Regions from separate parts of the Homo sapiens genome. Here region 2 is linked to region 1. The links come from fine-mapping of genetic effects on gene expression. A gene starts in region 1. The other region holds a variant in brackets. All regions are shown on one strand. Distances are between the middles of the regions.

Region 1 (8,329 bases):
CCAGACTGCAGTGCAGTGGCGCGATCTCAGCTCACTCCAACCTCCGCCTCCTGGGTTCAAGCAATTCTCCTGCCTCAGCCTCCTAAGTAGCTGGGATTACAGGCACGCACCACCACACCCAGCTAATTTTTGTATTTTTAGTAGAGACGGGTTTCACCATGTTGGTCAGGCTAATCTCAAACTCCTGACCTCGTGATCCACCCACCTCAGCCTCCCAAAGTGCTGGGATTACAGACATGAGCCACTGCACCCAGCCGGTTTTTTTGCTTCTTAATTAAAAAAAGAAAAACAGCAAGAATAAGCTATAAAATCTTTCTGAGTCATACCCAAAAGGATAATATATAAAGTCACCTATCCCTATTTTAACATACATTTTGTAATTTTTAAAATGTATATTTCTGTACTTTAAATACTTCCTTTAATCCTTTTAGTAATAAAATATAGCAGCTTTTAATCATGACCAGAAATGTTATATGACATTGACTGTAATACTAAAAACACAGTCAATTTACTTCACTTTAAGAAAGGACAAGACTCTTAGTAGACACATTGGCAGGCATCATAATTTTACTGAATTCACCTTATGCAATAAATTTTCTTTTAGAATCACACCAAAATTGGCTCTCTTTCTTCTTTCAATAGAAATTAAAATTTGCATGCAAATTACAGAGTTCAATCTTATTCATCAATACTAGACAGAAAAGTGTCATGTTCCTTCACACCAGTTTCATAGCTTCTCAGTCCTGATAGATATTCCTTCCCACCTGACAATAAACACAGTAAAAAGAGTACTCAAATGACCTTGAAATTGTTGTTTCACTCACCACATAAATATTTTTCTGCATCTTCTTATTCTTCAATAAATCAATTTCAAGAGCAAATTAATAAATAACAATAATTAGGATTAATATCCCTGCAAGAATATTAACTAACTGCAAATGCCTACCTATTTGCCTCTTGGTGTGTTCTCTAGCTCTTTATTATAGATATAAAAACTATCTTTGTTAACAGATGACTTTAAAGACCATTGCCACACACATAAGGATGAAAGACTTTACTCAATGGCACAAATCAGTCAGAACTAAAAATGGAACTTAGATACCAAATGCAAGTCATTGAACTTATATCCTAATAGTTTAACAAAGTGGTTTAAAAGAATACATAAAATTTACCATCTTAACCTTTTTTTTTTTTTTTGAAACAGCGTCTCACTCTGTTGCCCAGGCCGGAGGGCAGTGGTGCTACCTGGGCTCAATGCAGCCTCAAATGCCCAGGTTCAAGCAAGTCTCGTGCCTCAGCCTCCCAAGTAGCTGGGACTACAGGTGTGAACCATGGCGCCTGGCTAATTTTTTTTTTGGTAGAGATGGGGTTTCGCCATGTTGCGCAGGCTGGTCTCGAACTCCTGAGCTCAGGTGATCCATCTGCCTCAGCCTCCCAAAGTGCTGGGATTACAGGTGTCAGCCACCATGGTTGGCCCCATCTTAACCATTTTTAAGTGTTAAGTGTTAACTATATGCACATCGTTAACAGTTTATGGTAATCTTTTAACTGTAATTCCTAACTTTATTTTTTTAAATATGGTTTTGGAAATGTATCCTCTTCCTAAATGCATTAATGGTTAGCTACAGAACATTTTTTTTTTAATTTCAAGAGTGGGGACTTGAGATAAGCTATTTTGACTTTGTGATATCACAAACATATATATGTAAACAAACAGGAGTCAGATTGAATGGGCCCCACTTTACAAACATGAGACAACTTCAGCATAAGGTAGAAATGTATTATCCTAAATAAGGATCCATGTATCCATAAATCCATAAATATGCAAGAAGATAATGTTCTTCCTTATAGTAGAATAACTAAAAAATGTACGAAGGTATCATGGAAATAGAAAATCACCATTTTGCATCATAGTAATCATTTCTCAGGCAAAAATCATCAACAGATGCTAAGACTGGGTAAAAGTCTGATGAGAAATAGGACAGTCACATAGTCTCAATGAATCGCCTCACAAATTAGTTAAAAATTACAAAAGGAGGAGTATTAACTTGACAGTGGAGAAACCTGGCAAACAACACTTTGGCTAAGTAACTAAAGTCAGCATTACCACTAATGGGATAAACCAACATTAAGTACCTGCTAATATGATGCACGGGGAACACAATACCACTTTTGTGATATTCCCACCAAGAATACATGACCTGAATCTAATCATGAGGAAACACCAGACAAACCCAAATTGAGTGACAGTCTGGAAAATAGAAGGCCTGTACTCTTCAAATACACCAATGTCATCAAACCCAAAGGAAGGCTGAGGAACCTTTCTAACAGAGTAAAGAGACATGAAAACCACTTGCAGGACATCTAGAGTATCTTAGACCAGAATAAGGAAAATTGCTATAAACTGTACTAATGGGACAACTGGCAAAATTGAACATCCATAGATTAGAAAACAGTATTTTATGGTGAAACTTCCAGATATTGCCAATTACAGTGTAGTTAGAAAGTGAACCTCTTTGTTCTTTTAAAATATCACTCAATTATTTAGGAGTAAAGGGCACATTTGCAACATACTTTCAAATGGTTCAGAAAGATAGTATTATGTATATATGTGGAAAGATAAAGCAAATGTGTCAAACTGCTAACATGCTGGGAAAACCAGGGGAAGGGTTTTGAGATTTCTTTGTACTATTCTTGCAACTTTTCTATAAGTGCAACTATTTCAAAATTTAAAAAGTTAAATACAGGTATATGTCCCTATTAATATATGGGTCCACTTTAGAAGTGTTGCCACCATTTCTTTTATGCTAGAAATCCAAATCTCTCCAACATTCTTAATGACTTTAAAACAGCTATTCTAGGCTGGGCGCGGTGGCTCACGCCTGTAATCCCAGCACTTTGGGAGGCCAAGGCGGGCGGATCATGAGGTCAGGAGATCGAGACCATACCGGCTAACACAGTGAAACCCCCGTCTCTACTAAAAATACAAAAAAATTAGCGGGGCGTGGTGGCGGGTACCTGTAGTCCCAGCTACTCAGGAGGCTGAGGCAGGAGAATGGCGTGAACCCGGGAGGCGGAGCTTGCAGTGAGCTGAGATCGCGCCACTGCACTCCAGCCTGGGCGACAGAGCGAGACTCCGTCTCAAAACAAACAAACAAACAAACAAAAAAAACAGCTATTCTACTTAGCTTGACTTCAAATTTTAAAAATAAGTCAAGGTCAAAGTCTTTGGCAAACCACAATGAATATCTGGAAGTAATGTCTATACACATTAGCCAACGATGTGGATAGTAAAAATTACTTAATCATTCCATTTTTTTCTGTTAGCTCTACAAAATTACTGAGTCCTAAATTCCATCCCCCACCACAATTATAATTTCACTTAGGCCAGACTTGTAATCTGTCCACAAAACTGTTTTCCAACTGCTGCATAGAGCAGCATTCTTCTGGCTCAGGTTCCTGGAATTTCCCCAAATTCATGATTTTCACTTGTTTATGTCTAGATCCCCAACCGGGAGAAAACATGTCCTGAGGGGAAGACAGGACACTAACCTGAAAGACATGGGTTTGAACTCTTTAGGGGAGGGGAGGGTCAGAACTTTTTATTAAACAAGGAATACGCACAAGAAAAAAGATGTCTAAGGCCAGGTGCGGTAGCTCAGGCCTGTAATTCCAGGACTTTGGGAGGCCGAGGCAGGTGGATCACTTGAGGACAAGAGTTCGAGACCAGCCTGGGTAACATGGGGAAACCCCGTCTCTACAAAAAAAAAAAAAAAAAAAAAAAAAAAATTAGCCAGGCGTGATGATGCGCACCTGTGATCCCAGCTTCTCGGGAAGCTGAGGTGGGAGAATCGCTTGAACCTGGGAGGCGACGGTTGCAGTGAGCCCATATCGTGCCACTGCACTCCACTCCAGCATGGGAAACAGAGCCAGACCTTGTCTCTTAAACAAACAAACAAACAAACAAACAAAAGTCTAATGTCTACAGACATCTAGAAAGAGCTCCAGCTATGCCTCAGAGAGAAAAATCCCAGGAGTGGATGGGAAAATATCCATGCCCAGAAAAAAAAAAAAAAAAAAAAAAAGGAGAAAAGGTACAAACCATCAGGTAAGTTTCTGACCCAAGTTTACCAATCTTGTTTCTCATTTCACCTAAATGTAAACTAGGAAAACTACACAATCCACAATATAAATTATTGTTACTTGACTTGTGACTGGTCAGTCTCCAAATACTCCTTTCCCACAGCATGAGAAGGAAAATATGTTTCCTATCAGTCCTTCTCACAACAGAAGAGAGAAATGTGGTTTGTCACTAATGAAACACTGAAAATGTACCACTGTCACCAGTTAACCTAATCTACAATCTGCTGGTTAAAAGCAGGTCAGCCTGAAGCATATAAAAAGACGTCTGCCTTTCAAAACTGGCTAAAGCTGTCAAATCGGATCGCAGGTTTTACAAATACAATCACCTAAATTCAGCCCTGCTCCATAAACCAGAAAGCAGAACCAGCTTCCATAACTGGCCACGCAGCCTCCCACCCCACCCCACCCCCGCCCTTGACAGTGAGTGGGTCGGAGTAGCCACGATGCGCCCAAAGTGTTTAATTCTTCCAGAAATGCCGGCCTCCGGGAGGAATCTAGGTTTGAAACTTTCCCCAACAGGGCATTCCCCGGTGACATTTTGCTCCCTCGGGTGTGGAGCAAGTGTGGAGGACCTGGCGGCCCGAAAGTGCCCAGAGTGACCGACAAAGGTGGGAAACGGCAGGGCAGAGAGTGGGCCAGAAGAAGGGGCAGCAGACGCGCAAATTCACATCATTCGGGGTCACCCTGACCCCAAACCTCTGACTTCTGCCCCGAACTGGCGTTCCGCAGGGAGTCCAGGGTAGGCCCCAGAACTTTGGACCCAAGTCCCAGGCGGGGACCGGCCTGCGGGCGCGAGGGCTGGTCGAATCTGAGGGGGCCAGTGATCTTTGCAAGACCCCATAGGGACGGCGGGTTGACGGGGGGCCGTCCCTGGGTTCGCCTTCCCAGTCCGGACTCACCGCCCGCCGGAGCTGCCCCGGAGCCGCCGCTCGGAACATGGTCTCCGCTTCCGCCGCAACCTCGGCCTTACAGCAGCCCCGTGCCCGGCCAACTGGCGCCGCCTCAGCCAGTCACCTAATGCTCGCGAGACGCGCGAACGAGATAAGACGCCCTAGGCCGGGAGCACGAGCCCGCGGTTTCCGCCTGCCCATTGGGCGGCTGCGCAGCCAATAGACGGCGGGAAGTTAGGGGCTAGACTGGGAAGTGGGGCAAAGGTGAGGCTATTCCCCGGGGACCTTCGAGTAAGCCCGGGCCGCGGAGCGGCAGAGACAAAGCTGGCCACCCGCTGATGACCGAGCTCAGACTGTACTGTCTCACAGCCCCGCAATGGTCAGCACTGCTAGAGTGAACTTCAAAACTGAGCTGACCTCGGGGTAAGGTACGAGTGGAGCCTTGCCAATTCCAATTAGATACCTTTCCTATATGCCCCTATTTCCCCCTGTATTTCCCCATGGTAGCAATTGTCACATGGGTTGTAATAACCTAAGTACTTGTCTGTGTCACCCATCTGACTGAAGATCTGTAAGGGCAGAAAGTATGCCCTTTTTTTTTTTTTTTTTTTTGAGAGAGAGAGAGTCTCCCTCTGTCACCCTGGCTGGAGTGCAGTGGCGCGAGCTCAGCTCACTGAAAGCTCCGCCTCCCGGGTTCACTCCATTCTTCTGCCTCAGCCTCCCGAGTAGCTGGGACTACAGGCGCCCGCCACCACGCCCAGCTAATTTTTTTGTATTTTTAGTAGAGACGGGGTTTCACAGTGTTAGGCAGGATGGTCTCGATCTCCTGACCTCGTGATCCGCCCGCCTCGGACTCCCAAAGTGCTGGGATTACAGGCGTGAGCCACCGCGCCCGGCCAGTATGCCCTACTTTTAAATTTTGTGTCTACCTGCAACACCTAGCACAATGCCTGGTCCATACTAGGCATTCAATCAGTATGTGTTGAATGAATAAGCAAATGAATAAATGACTGCTAATGAGTCTGGACTTTAACACGAAATTTTTAAGAGGGAAGTGGTATGTTCAGAAATTGTCTCAATTCCCAATTCAGCAACAACCTACCTTTCCAATGTTATCTAGTCTATCAACAAATCCCGTTGACTCTACCTTCAAAAGATAACCAGAATCCAGCAATATCCTCCAACACCCCTTTGCTCCTCTGCTGGTATCACCTTCACTCAGGACCCTGTCCTCTCTCGCCTGGATCATTGCAAAGCCTCCTAACTGGTCTTTCTGTTTCTGCCCATGTTTCCAGAAGCCTCTTCTCCAAACTGATGGACTGATCATGACCTCTGCTCAAAGCCCTATGGTGGCTCCCTCTCCTCCCACTGCCCTCTTCTCTCACTGTTCCCCAGATACATAGGCCTTCTTGAGCACACAAGCCTGCTCCTCTCAGAGTTTTGCACTCTGGCTCTTCCCTCTGCCTGAAATGGCCTTCTCTTGTTACCCGCGTGGCGTACTTCCTCACTTCATTCAGGTCTCTGCTCAAAAAACACATTTGCAGAAAGGCCGGCCTTAGCCTCTCCACCTAAAATAGCACCCATGCCACTCCCAGACGCCCTATCACCTTGTTTGATTTTTTTTCTTGGCATTTATCACTGCCTAACAGGATGCACATGTTTGTTTATTGCTGATCTCACTGCATTGGAGTGTAAATTCCCTGAAGCAAGAGCTTTGTCTGAACTAACAAGCACTCTAAGGGCCTTGCGCTTTTGCTCTTCCCTCTGTCTGAAATTCCCTTCCCCATCTGACAGCCCTCTTTAAAACCCAGATCAAGTGACAATTCTTTTGTTCTGTTTAAGACAAGGTCTCACTCTGTTTCCCAGGCTGGAGTGCGGTGGTGCCATCACAGCTCACTGCAGTCTCGAACTCCTGGGATCAAGCAATCTTCCTGCCTCAGCCTCCCAAGTAGCTGGGACTACAGTCATGTGCCACCATGCCCAGCTATTTTTTTTTGTAGGGGCAGGGTTACCCAGGGCTGGTCTCGAACTCCTGGCCTCAAGTGATCTTCCCACCTTGGCCTCTCAAAGTACTGGGATTACAGACATGAGCCACCACGCCTGGCCCAAGTGACATTTCTTTTGTAAGCTCTTTCTCAATTCTGCAGGATGAATTAATCCTTTCCTCTTCTTCACTCTTGTAGCTCTATGAACAAGGAGGTGAGGACCCATCTTAAACTTAAGTTGCACCCACTTCGAACACGTCTGAACTCATGTTGCCGACAGAGCTGTGGACCCCTGTCCCCCAGTCAATCTGCCTGTGGGAGGGGCAATTTAGTATTCCATGTCTCACTGCATTTACCTCCTAACCAGTCCCACACTGGACTAGAATCTGAGACCTATGGGAGTGGAAGGAAGAGGGAAGGGTACTTTTAGTAAAAACAGAAAAGGATATTTTACTAAAAACCATATAAAAAACTGGGATACAAACTAACCTCCTTCCCTACCTCCCCACCCATGACAAAGCGAAATACAAGGGGAGAGCGGCTGCCCCGCCCTGCCCCCACTGGGCAGATTCAACAGCTCCCAGGCTTGGGCAAATCAGCAGCAGCTGTTCACCCCAGAGTCTCGTTGCCCCTGGGGGTTCCTGGTGGAGCAGTTCAGAGCAGAGGGAGAGGCTAAAAATGGGCAAAGTCTGTGACACCTGACCAGACCTGTTCTGATCACACATGAAACGCCCCCTGAGGCTTTGGGATGTATCAGGGTTCTACAATCACAACCAGGTTATGTACCACAGAAATGTGTGTGCTAAGACATTTCTATTAGAAGATTTTCCCTAGAGGCATATGACTTTCCCACTCCATTAGGAGCCGCTTTGGTGGCAGGACCTATGGTTTCCTTTTATTTACTTATTTTTATTTTATTTATTTTGGAGACGGAGTCTCACTCTGTCACCCAGGCTGGAGTGCAGTGGCGCGATCTCGGCTCACTGCAACCTCCACCTCCCCTCAGTTTCAATGGATTCTCTTGCCTTAGGCTCCCAAGTAGCTGGAATTACAGGTGCCCACCACCATGCCCAGCTAATTTTTGTATTTTTAGTAGAGATGGGGTTTCACCATGTTGGTCAGGCTGGTCTCAAAGCCCTGACCTCAGGTGATCTGCCTGCCGTGGCCTCCCAAAGTGCTGGGATTACAGGCGTGAGCCACCGTGTCCAGCCTATTTATTTGCTTCTTATTTTTAGATGTTCAGCAAACATTTGTAGAAATATGTGTCCAATGGGCTAGGTGCAATGGCTCACACCTGTAATCCTAGCAATT
Region 2 (8,329 bases), 130 kb before region 1:
TGCTGCTGCCTGAATGCTGGGCCCGCCCTTCCCTAGTCCAAGCCCTGCCACTGCTGAATTCTTTACAGGGCTGTCTCTGTCTTCCAGCCTACGTCCTGCCAGTGAAGCTGGAGATGGAGATGGTTATCCAGCAGTACGAGAAGGCCAAGGTCATCCAAGACGAGCAGCTGGAGAGGCTGACGCAGATCTGTCAGGAGCAAGGGGTAATGCACTGCCACTTTCGGCTCTGTCCGTGGTCTTGCTGGGGACACTGGTAGTGCCTAAAGCCATGGGTTGCTAGAGCTGCAGGGGCACCAGAGGTCAGGGAGTTCCTCCAGCCCCTTGTTGGACTCATGGGGAACCTGAAGCCCAGAGAAGGGGACACATCTCCAGGTTCACTGATGTATAGCCCAGCCAGGCATGGACTCAACCCTGACTCCCAGGCCAGGGTTCTTTCCACTGTAGCACGGTGACTCTTCAGCTCCCCAACCTGAGTCTGCCAAGTCGCCCCCTCAGTTCATCAGAGTCTTCTCGGAGACATGGTCGGTCTCTAAAGCCAGTCGCTAATTCTGTCTGCTGAGGGTTGCTGGGCACCATGGTATGCCCATTGCCACGCGGGACGCCCAGGGCCCCAGAAAGATGCTAGCGGTGCTCTCTACCCTCCAGGAGATGTGATGCAGACTCAGAGAGGCAGGTGGTGGGCCCTGCAAGGATGGGCTCAGCAGAGGCAAGGGGGACTGGCAGCTGGGCCAGGGGCACCCTGTCGGGAATCCAGAGACCTGCATTCAAGGCCTAGCCCTGCTGCTCCCACCCCGCCGGACTCCGGCCAAGTTGGGCCACCCCTCTGCCCTCAGTTCCTTCCTCTGTAAGATGAGGTGGCTGCTCCCATGTGAGTGGGACAGAGGAGTTCAGAGGAGGGGGATTGGGGTACTCAGGAGGGGGTGGCTGCTGGATCCCGCAGCAAGGCTGAGAGCTCTGTAGAAGTGCAGCTCGGTGTGCAGGGAAGGGTCCGGTCCCAGGCTGTAAGGTGGGAATGCTACTGAGGGGACTGGCAAGGTGGTGGGAATGTGGGGGATGGTCCAAATGACATGCATGGTCATTCCCATTCTGCCCGATGGATTCTGGGGAGAGGACAGGGCCACTGCCCCCAGCTGCGCAAGCCAGAGACGCTAAGCCTGTGGCTCTCTGTGCCCAGGGCCAGGCGAGTTCTTCACGGGCTGTCTTCCAGCCCATGTCCTGCCAGTGAAAGTGGAGGAATGCCCGTGGCCGCATATTGATGTGGGCACTGAGCCCTTCTGGCTTGCAGTGCGGTGAGGATGGGCACCCCTGGGCTCCCTATTCCTCCCCCATTGCTGGGTGCCCAGGCAGTCTCCAAGGTGGCCTCAGGGTTGAGGTCTCATGTGGCGTACAGGCCTGCTATGTGTCTGCCCGTCCTATCGACCTCCTCTCTCATGTGTCTGGTGCATAAACACCCCGACTGTGCCAAGTGGAGTCACCTGTCATTTTGACAAGCCCTGTGCCATGCCACCTCTTGGGTTTTGGTTGCGCTGTGCCCCTTGCCTGAATCCCCGCCCCTTGCAAGCTCTGTCTGTCTAATTCAAGTCCTAGCCTCTCTACAGAGCATGTTCCCCCCGCCAGTAGCCTCTGCACCTCCTCCCCCAGCCCTGCAGCAGCCCTCACTTGTCCACATTCACAGGGCACTGGGCACTCACTGCCATGGTCAGTGCTCCTTTATGCCTGGGGCAGCTCTTCCCGCTGAAATAGATGCCCCCTGAAGGCAAGCCTTAGTCCAACTCACATCCGGCCCCAGCCAGCACTCCGCGCGTTGTAGGTCTTGGTCAATGTGTGTTCAGTGTATGTCGTGGGTCTTGGTAAATGTGTATTCTGTTGCGGGTCTTGGTAAATGCATATTCACTGTACCTGTTGGCTCCTCGACCAACCCCAGCCTCTCACAGTTTTGGGGTGGGGGACACGTCTGTGGAATGTCACAACAAAGTGATCCTGGGAAATGTCCCCACAGGAACACGCACACAGTGTCTTCAGAATCATCCCCTCGGAATGTCTGTCAGGAAACCAATCTTTTTATCTGCTTTGGGAACACTATGACCTTTTGTTTCGCACAGAATGCCTATGCGTGACAAGAGGGGTCATCAGGGGACATGGCCCTCAGGGGCACGTTGTCCAAGGTGTCCCGAGAGCAGGGCAGGCTATGGAATCCTAGACTAGGAAGAGAAGCATTCCCTTCCTGAGGAGCTGGCATCAGCTTCATTCATTCTCTTGCCATATCGCGTGGTTAGCCAGCACCGTCCAGAGCTGCTCTGTGCTGGGCTTGTGCCGGGCATGTGGATGCCGCCTAGGACAGGGTGTGACCCTCGTCCTCACGGGGCTCTGGGTGACTCAGGGGGTTTGGCAGCCCATAAATAGGCAGTGGAAATCTGGTGCAATGCCTGTATCACATGGGCACGTCCCGGGCTCTGCAGGCCAGGATGGGGAAGGCTTTCCAGAGGAGCTGATGTGGAGCAGAGCCCTGGGGAGAAGGCTGCCAGGCAGAGGGAACAGTGTGGGGTGTGCGAGTGGGTGCAGTGCCCCCGGGGTTCGGGGCCATTTAGAGGGTGAGCAGAGGGAGGCAGTAGGATTGGGGACAGGCTTGGGAAGGGGCTCTGTGGCTGACCAGAGAGTTTGGGCTTTATCCTGCTGGGACAGAGGAAGCCTGGAGGATTAAAAGCAGGACTGGGGGATCTGCTCAGATGTGAGTTGTTGATGGAGCCTTCTGGCTGCCGTTGGAGGCTGGATGGAGAGGGCAGGGTGGAGACAGGAAGACTGGGGACAGAGGCTGGAGAAGAAGGTGAGAGAAGCTGGGCTTTAGGCAGAGGGGGCTGCAGGGAAGTGGGGAAAGTAAAGTGCAGGGTGTCATCCAGAAAGCGACTGGAAGCCGATCAGGCAGTTCTCATTCTGCTGTTGAACAGGAAAACAAATGCTCTACTTCACTGCAGTTGGCAACGTGAAAGACACGGACACAGGGCTGCATCCGCCCCTCATAAATTCGCAGCCTCCCAGCCCAGCAGGGAACGCGCTGACCCTGCCGCACACCTCACCTCAGCCACACATGCGCCACGTGGCCAGGAGAAAATCCTAACGGCAACCCCACCTCCCAGGGTTTCCACCATGACCTCTGTCCGGAGCCCCCCGGGGACCCCAGGTTCCTGCCGTCCTGGTTCAAGTCACCTCCACATGTGGCCTCCTTCCCGGGGGTCTCAGCCGGAGGGAGACTCCCTTGCATTCTGCACAGGAAAGAGCCAATAAATAAAGACAGATTCCCTCTAGGTAGCGACATCTGGAAAAGAGATGAACAGAAACGAACCATTTTAATTTAAAAAACACCTGAAGCCTGTCATCTTAGTTAAGACAGCAGAAAGGGCCAGACAGGCTGGACTCCCAGTG[G/C]GGCCACCGGGGAGGGTGGGGGCTGCCTGGCCAGAGGGACCAGGAGGGCAGCTCTCCTGGAGTCTGTGGTGCCCACTCCACAGAGCGAAGCAGACAGATGCCTCACTTGCAGCTGTATTTTCAGACCTGGTTTGAGACTTGACTGGGTAACAGATACCCTGGAGGAAATGAGACTGTGGGCCCTGGAATGTCAGAGATGGCTAGACCCTTGGAGACAGCAGCCCATGGAATGGTTGAGAATAGACTTGGTTCTAAATAGACTTTGAGCTGGCTTCGAACCCAGGTGTGTCTCTCTTTAGAACACTTACTGGCCTTGTGGCTTTGGGCATTAATGGGACATCTATGGGCCTTGGTTTTCCTAATCTGAAAAATGGGTGTAGTAATAGAATCCTCGAAGGATGGTGATGAGATCGTAGCCTAAAGCCTGACACATGATGGGTAGCAACTAATGGGTGTGGACCCCGAAGTCCACCAGCCCCACCACACCTGCCCCACACACCCATTTTACAAATAAGAAAACTGAGCAGTGGCAGCTCGCCTTGGGGGCACACAGCTAGTCCAGGGGGGCATAGAACCAGGTGTCCTAACTGTGAACACTGTTCTTTTCCAGCCCATCACGTTGAGCCTCCTTTTTCCTACTCATGGCACTTAGCACTCAGCAAAAACATTGATCAGATTATGCATGGGGTATTTTATACTGCAGGCACAGACCTGGCTCCCCTCAGCTGTCTCAATGGCAGCCCCCAACCCCGTTCCAGGACAGTCTAGTATTCCTTGTGACAAACTCTTGCTGTCTCCTTGCTGGAATTCTCAGAGTATAATGAAGACATTTCCAAACTGAATTCACATATGCTGCCTGAAAAATTGACATTTACCAATGAAATGTGTTAGGGTCCCAGTTTAAATACAACACCTGGCCTGGCGCGATGGCTCACACCTGTAATCCCAGTGCTCTGGAAGGCTGAGGCAGGAGGACTGCTTGAGGCCAGAAGTTTGAGGCTGCAGTGAGCTGTAATGACACCACTGCACTCCAGCCTGGGCCACAGAGCAAGACTGTCTCTAAAACAAAACAAAACAAAACAAAACAAAACGCTTTTCACTCCCTTGCTCTCTTGCTGGGGTGTGTTTGTACAACTATTTCAACTATTTGCCACAACTTCACCCAGCTCTTTTTAAAAAAATAAACTTTATTTTTTAGAACAGTTTTATATTGACCAAAAAATAGTGAAGCAGGTGCAGAGTTCCCTGTATCCCTTGTGCCTGGCTGCCCATCATTAACATCATACACTAGTATCATTTGTTACAATGAACAAACCCACATTGATACGGTACTCAGGTTTTCTTAGTATTTAATCTGTTATGTCCTCTGTTTGCTCCACGTCGCATTCAGTAGGCTTAGGCTCCTCCTGGCTGTGGCAATTTCTCAGACTTTGTTTCTGATGACCTGAAGGGTTTTGGGGAGCACTGGTCGGGTGTTTTTGTTTTACAGGATGCCCCTCTGTTGGGATTCGTCTGATGTTTTTCCCAGGGTAAGCCTGGGGTTGTGGGTTTTGGGAGGAAGACTGCAGAAGGAAAGTGCCATTCTTATTGTCTCACATCAAGAGGACACACTGGCCACGTGACTTCTCACTGTGATGCGGCCTGGATCACCCGGCTGGGGCAGCGTGGGTCAGGTGTCTCCACTGCACAGTTACTCTCTGTTTCTTCATCTTAAGCTTTTTTTTTTTTTTTTTTTTTTTTGGAACAGAGTCTCACTCTGTCACCCAGGCTGGAGTGTAGTGGCGCCATCTTGGCTCACTGCAACCTCCACCTCCTGGGTTCAAGAGATTCTCCTGCCTCAGCTTCCCGGGTAGCTGGGATTACAGGCACCTGCCACCATGCCCAGCTAATTTTTGTATTTTTAGTAGAGACGGGGTTTCACCATGTTGACCAGGCTGGTCTCAAACTCCTGACCTCAGGTGATCCACCCGCCTCACCCTCCCAAAGTGCTGTGATTACAGGCATGAGCCACCGCACCCAGCCCATCTTAACTTTTTAAGAAAGATTACATTGCTTCTTACCGTGACCCTGTGGAGACTCTCAGGTGAGCCTGTTGGCCAGTTTCTTGCATGAATATCTGATTCATTTCACCTTCTGTGCTACATGGCAGTTCATTTCTTGTCACAGGCCCACATGCAAGGTGCTCCAGAATCACCTTATATAACAGATGAAAGGTCCCTGGGGAGGGCAGCTGGCCCAATCCAGGATTTGGCAGATGGGGCATCTGAGGCTCAGAGAAAGGGAGAGGTGGGCCCAACGTGGCACAGCAGTTATGAGGCCAGGACGAAAACAGGTCTCTTGTTGCTCATTCCAGTGCCTTCCCTCCTGGATCACACTGGCCCTCTGGCTTTGACAGGGAAACAGGCTTCACTGCTTCCCTCATTCCTATGATCTCTTCTGGTTGTGGACACACCTCATGCTTAACAGATTCCTACTTGGGGAGGGGTGCCTAGAGGATCCCGGGAGGGGAGGAGGTCTCTCTGCTGGTCAGTCATACCATTCCAAAGCCCTGGCCATGCCTTCTGCAGTCCCTTCCAGACTCCCCGCTGCTGTGATAGAAGCACATGGCTTCTGACCCCTGAATTCAGCAATTCCTCAATTCCTTAGGTGGAAGTTCTTTTCCATTCTTTTTGTTTGTTTGTTTGTTTTTGGTGAGGGGTGGATCTTGGCCAGAATTTCATGACGAGTTAGGCTCGCTGGTACACAGATGGAGTCCAAAGTCACGATGCTAGAGGCTGCCCTTCAGAGAGACGGTGTGGATGCCTTGTCTCTCTCTCTGTCTTGGCTGCTTCAGAAACCAAAGCCATTTTAGATGCAGCAGTTAAATCAATGCAACGATATACTCTTCTGACTCATCTCACGAAACCACCTCTGAGGTTTTATGTACCTCCATGCGTGGGATCTCGCTCTAGTTCCGAAACACATTCTGAAGTCTCCGTTACACCCGCTCTTTCATGTTTAAGCCTGGTAACAGCTTTTGGTACAAAATAGTATGATCTGACCTGGCCCACTGTGGAAGTTAGTTTCTCTTCTCTGACGTTCTGCTTCCTCAGCACCATTCACCCTGAGATCATTGGCAAAATACTGAGGGATATGAGGCTCAATCCGGGGTGACTCAAGGTCCAGCCTCCAAGGAGACCAGTGGGACCTGTGAGCCCCTTAGGACATCCTTAGACCTTGGGAAAGGTGAGTCCCTTGTCGGGGAGCTTGGAGGAGTGGAAAGAATCCTCTTATTCGGGGAGCCAGCAAGCCAGATTCAAACCTCAGCCCCACCAGTGACCAGTCATCTTCCCTTTAACCCCTGAGCCTCAGCTTCTCATTGGGGAAATTGGAGGTAACAAGGCCTACATCGTGTGGATGCCATATGCATCAAATTAAATCTGGCCTGCTGGAGGCTTTCAGTAAGGGTTAAAAAAAAGAGAGAGGTCGGGTGCGGTGGCTCACACCTGTAATCCTAGCACTTTGGGAGGCCGAGGCGGGCAGATCACGAGGTCAGGAGGTCGAGACCATCCTGGCTAACACGGTGAAACCCCGTCTCTACTAAAAAAAAATATATATAAAAAATTAGCCCGGTGTGGTGGCGGGTGCCTGTGGTCCCAGCTACTCAGGAGGCTGAGGCAGGAGAATGGCATGAACCTGGGAGGCAGAGCTTAAAGTGAGCCGAGATCATGCCACTGCACTCCAGCCTGGGTGACAGAGCGAGACTCAGTCACAAAAAAACAAAACAAAACAAAACAAAAAAAACTACTAAATGTATCTATATGATGGTTGCTCATTCACAAATGCACTGTCATGTTTTAGCTCATTTTTCCTTTGCTGGTGAAAGTTGGCAGGCTGGGTACTATTAATCCCTTCACATGGAAAGACTGAGGCTCAGAGAGGCTATTCTTTGGCCAGATCCTGTAGTTTTTCATGGAGGGACTAGGAAAGAAACCCAGGGCTTCAGTGTCCATTTCCCTGCGCCAGAAAGAGGCATCTGCCTGAGTCACTGATAGTTAGGGTGAGTAACACCAGTTGTTGCATCCAGCAAATCCAGAAATCTGAGTCCTGACACAGGAGGAGTACATTTGTCACTCTCATCATACTCCAATGCAGGTTGCAATGGGGCAGGGTGGAGGGACCCTCTGTTCCACACAAGTCACTCAGGCCTCCAGGCTGCTTCCATTTTGTGGCTTTTTTTTTTTTTTTTTTTTTTTTTTTTTTGAGATGGAGTCTCGCTCTGTGGCCCAGGCTGGAGTGCAGTGACATGATCTCGGCTCACTGCAACCTCTGCCTCCTGGGTTCAAGCGATTCTCCTGCCTCAACCTCCCGAGTAGCTGGGATTACAGGCATGTGTCACCACCCCTGGCTAATTTTTGTATTTTTAGTAGAGATGGGGTTTCACCATGTTGGCCAGGCTGGTCTCGAACTCCTGACCTCAAGTGATCCACCCACCTCGGCCTCCCAAAGTGCAGGGATTACAGGTGGGAGCCACCAAGCCCGGCCGATCCTTCTTCCTCCAAGTCCTCGGAGTCTTCTCCAGTCAGTGGATAGGAAAGTGAGGCTGGGGAATTGGGCACAGCAGGTTTTTATTGGCCAGGACTGAAAATGGTGATATTGCTCTGCCCCCGTTTTATTGGCAAGAGTCAGTTGCACAGTACCAACTAGGGGCACCAGATGCTGTCAGAAGTGGTCTTTGTGCCCAAGAAGAAAACAGTCGCCTGCACAGTCACCCAACCCATAAAACAAGGCCAATGGGCTCACAACATTCCCTACCCTTTCCCCGGTTCCACCACAGCAGGCGGCACAGCCACACTTATCAAAGTCCTTCCTGGGGGAATGCCATGCCTCCCTGGCCTGTTTTCCTGAAGAAACAAGATGATAATCTTGA

What was found.
Region 2: its variant is fine-mapped to the expression of ETFA in nasal epithelium (TOPMed, PIP above 0.99). The same link has a PIP of 0.9 or more in tibial artery.

What each region holds. Positions count from the first base shown.
Region 1 is chr15:76,306,308-76,314,636 of GRCh38, forward strand. It overlaps ETFA (electron transfer flavoprotein subunit alpha), which reads right to left and starts at 5,162. Exons shown (of 12, transcript NM_000126.4): 1 at 5,043-5,162. The coding sequence starts at 5,081. RefSeq lists enhancers at 4,414-4,914, 4,915-5,415, 5,625-5,674, 5,735-5,784 and a cis regulatory region at 7,346-7,767.
Region 2 is chr15:76,175,472-76,183,800 of GRCh38, forward strand. It overlaps TMEM266 (transmembrane protein 266), which reads left to right. Exons shown (of 11, transcript NM_152335.5): 8 at 88-203. LOC101929439 (a long non-coding RNA gene) reads right to left here and starts at 6,015. Exons shown (of 3, transcript NR_120360.1): 1 at 5,481-6,015; 2 at 3,075-3,313; 3 at 1-999. RefSeq lists enhancers at 6,106-6,155, 6,366-6,415. The variant G/C (reference allele first, on the strand shown) is at 3,421.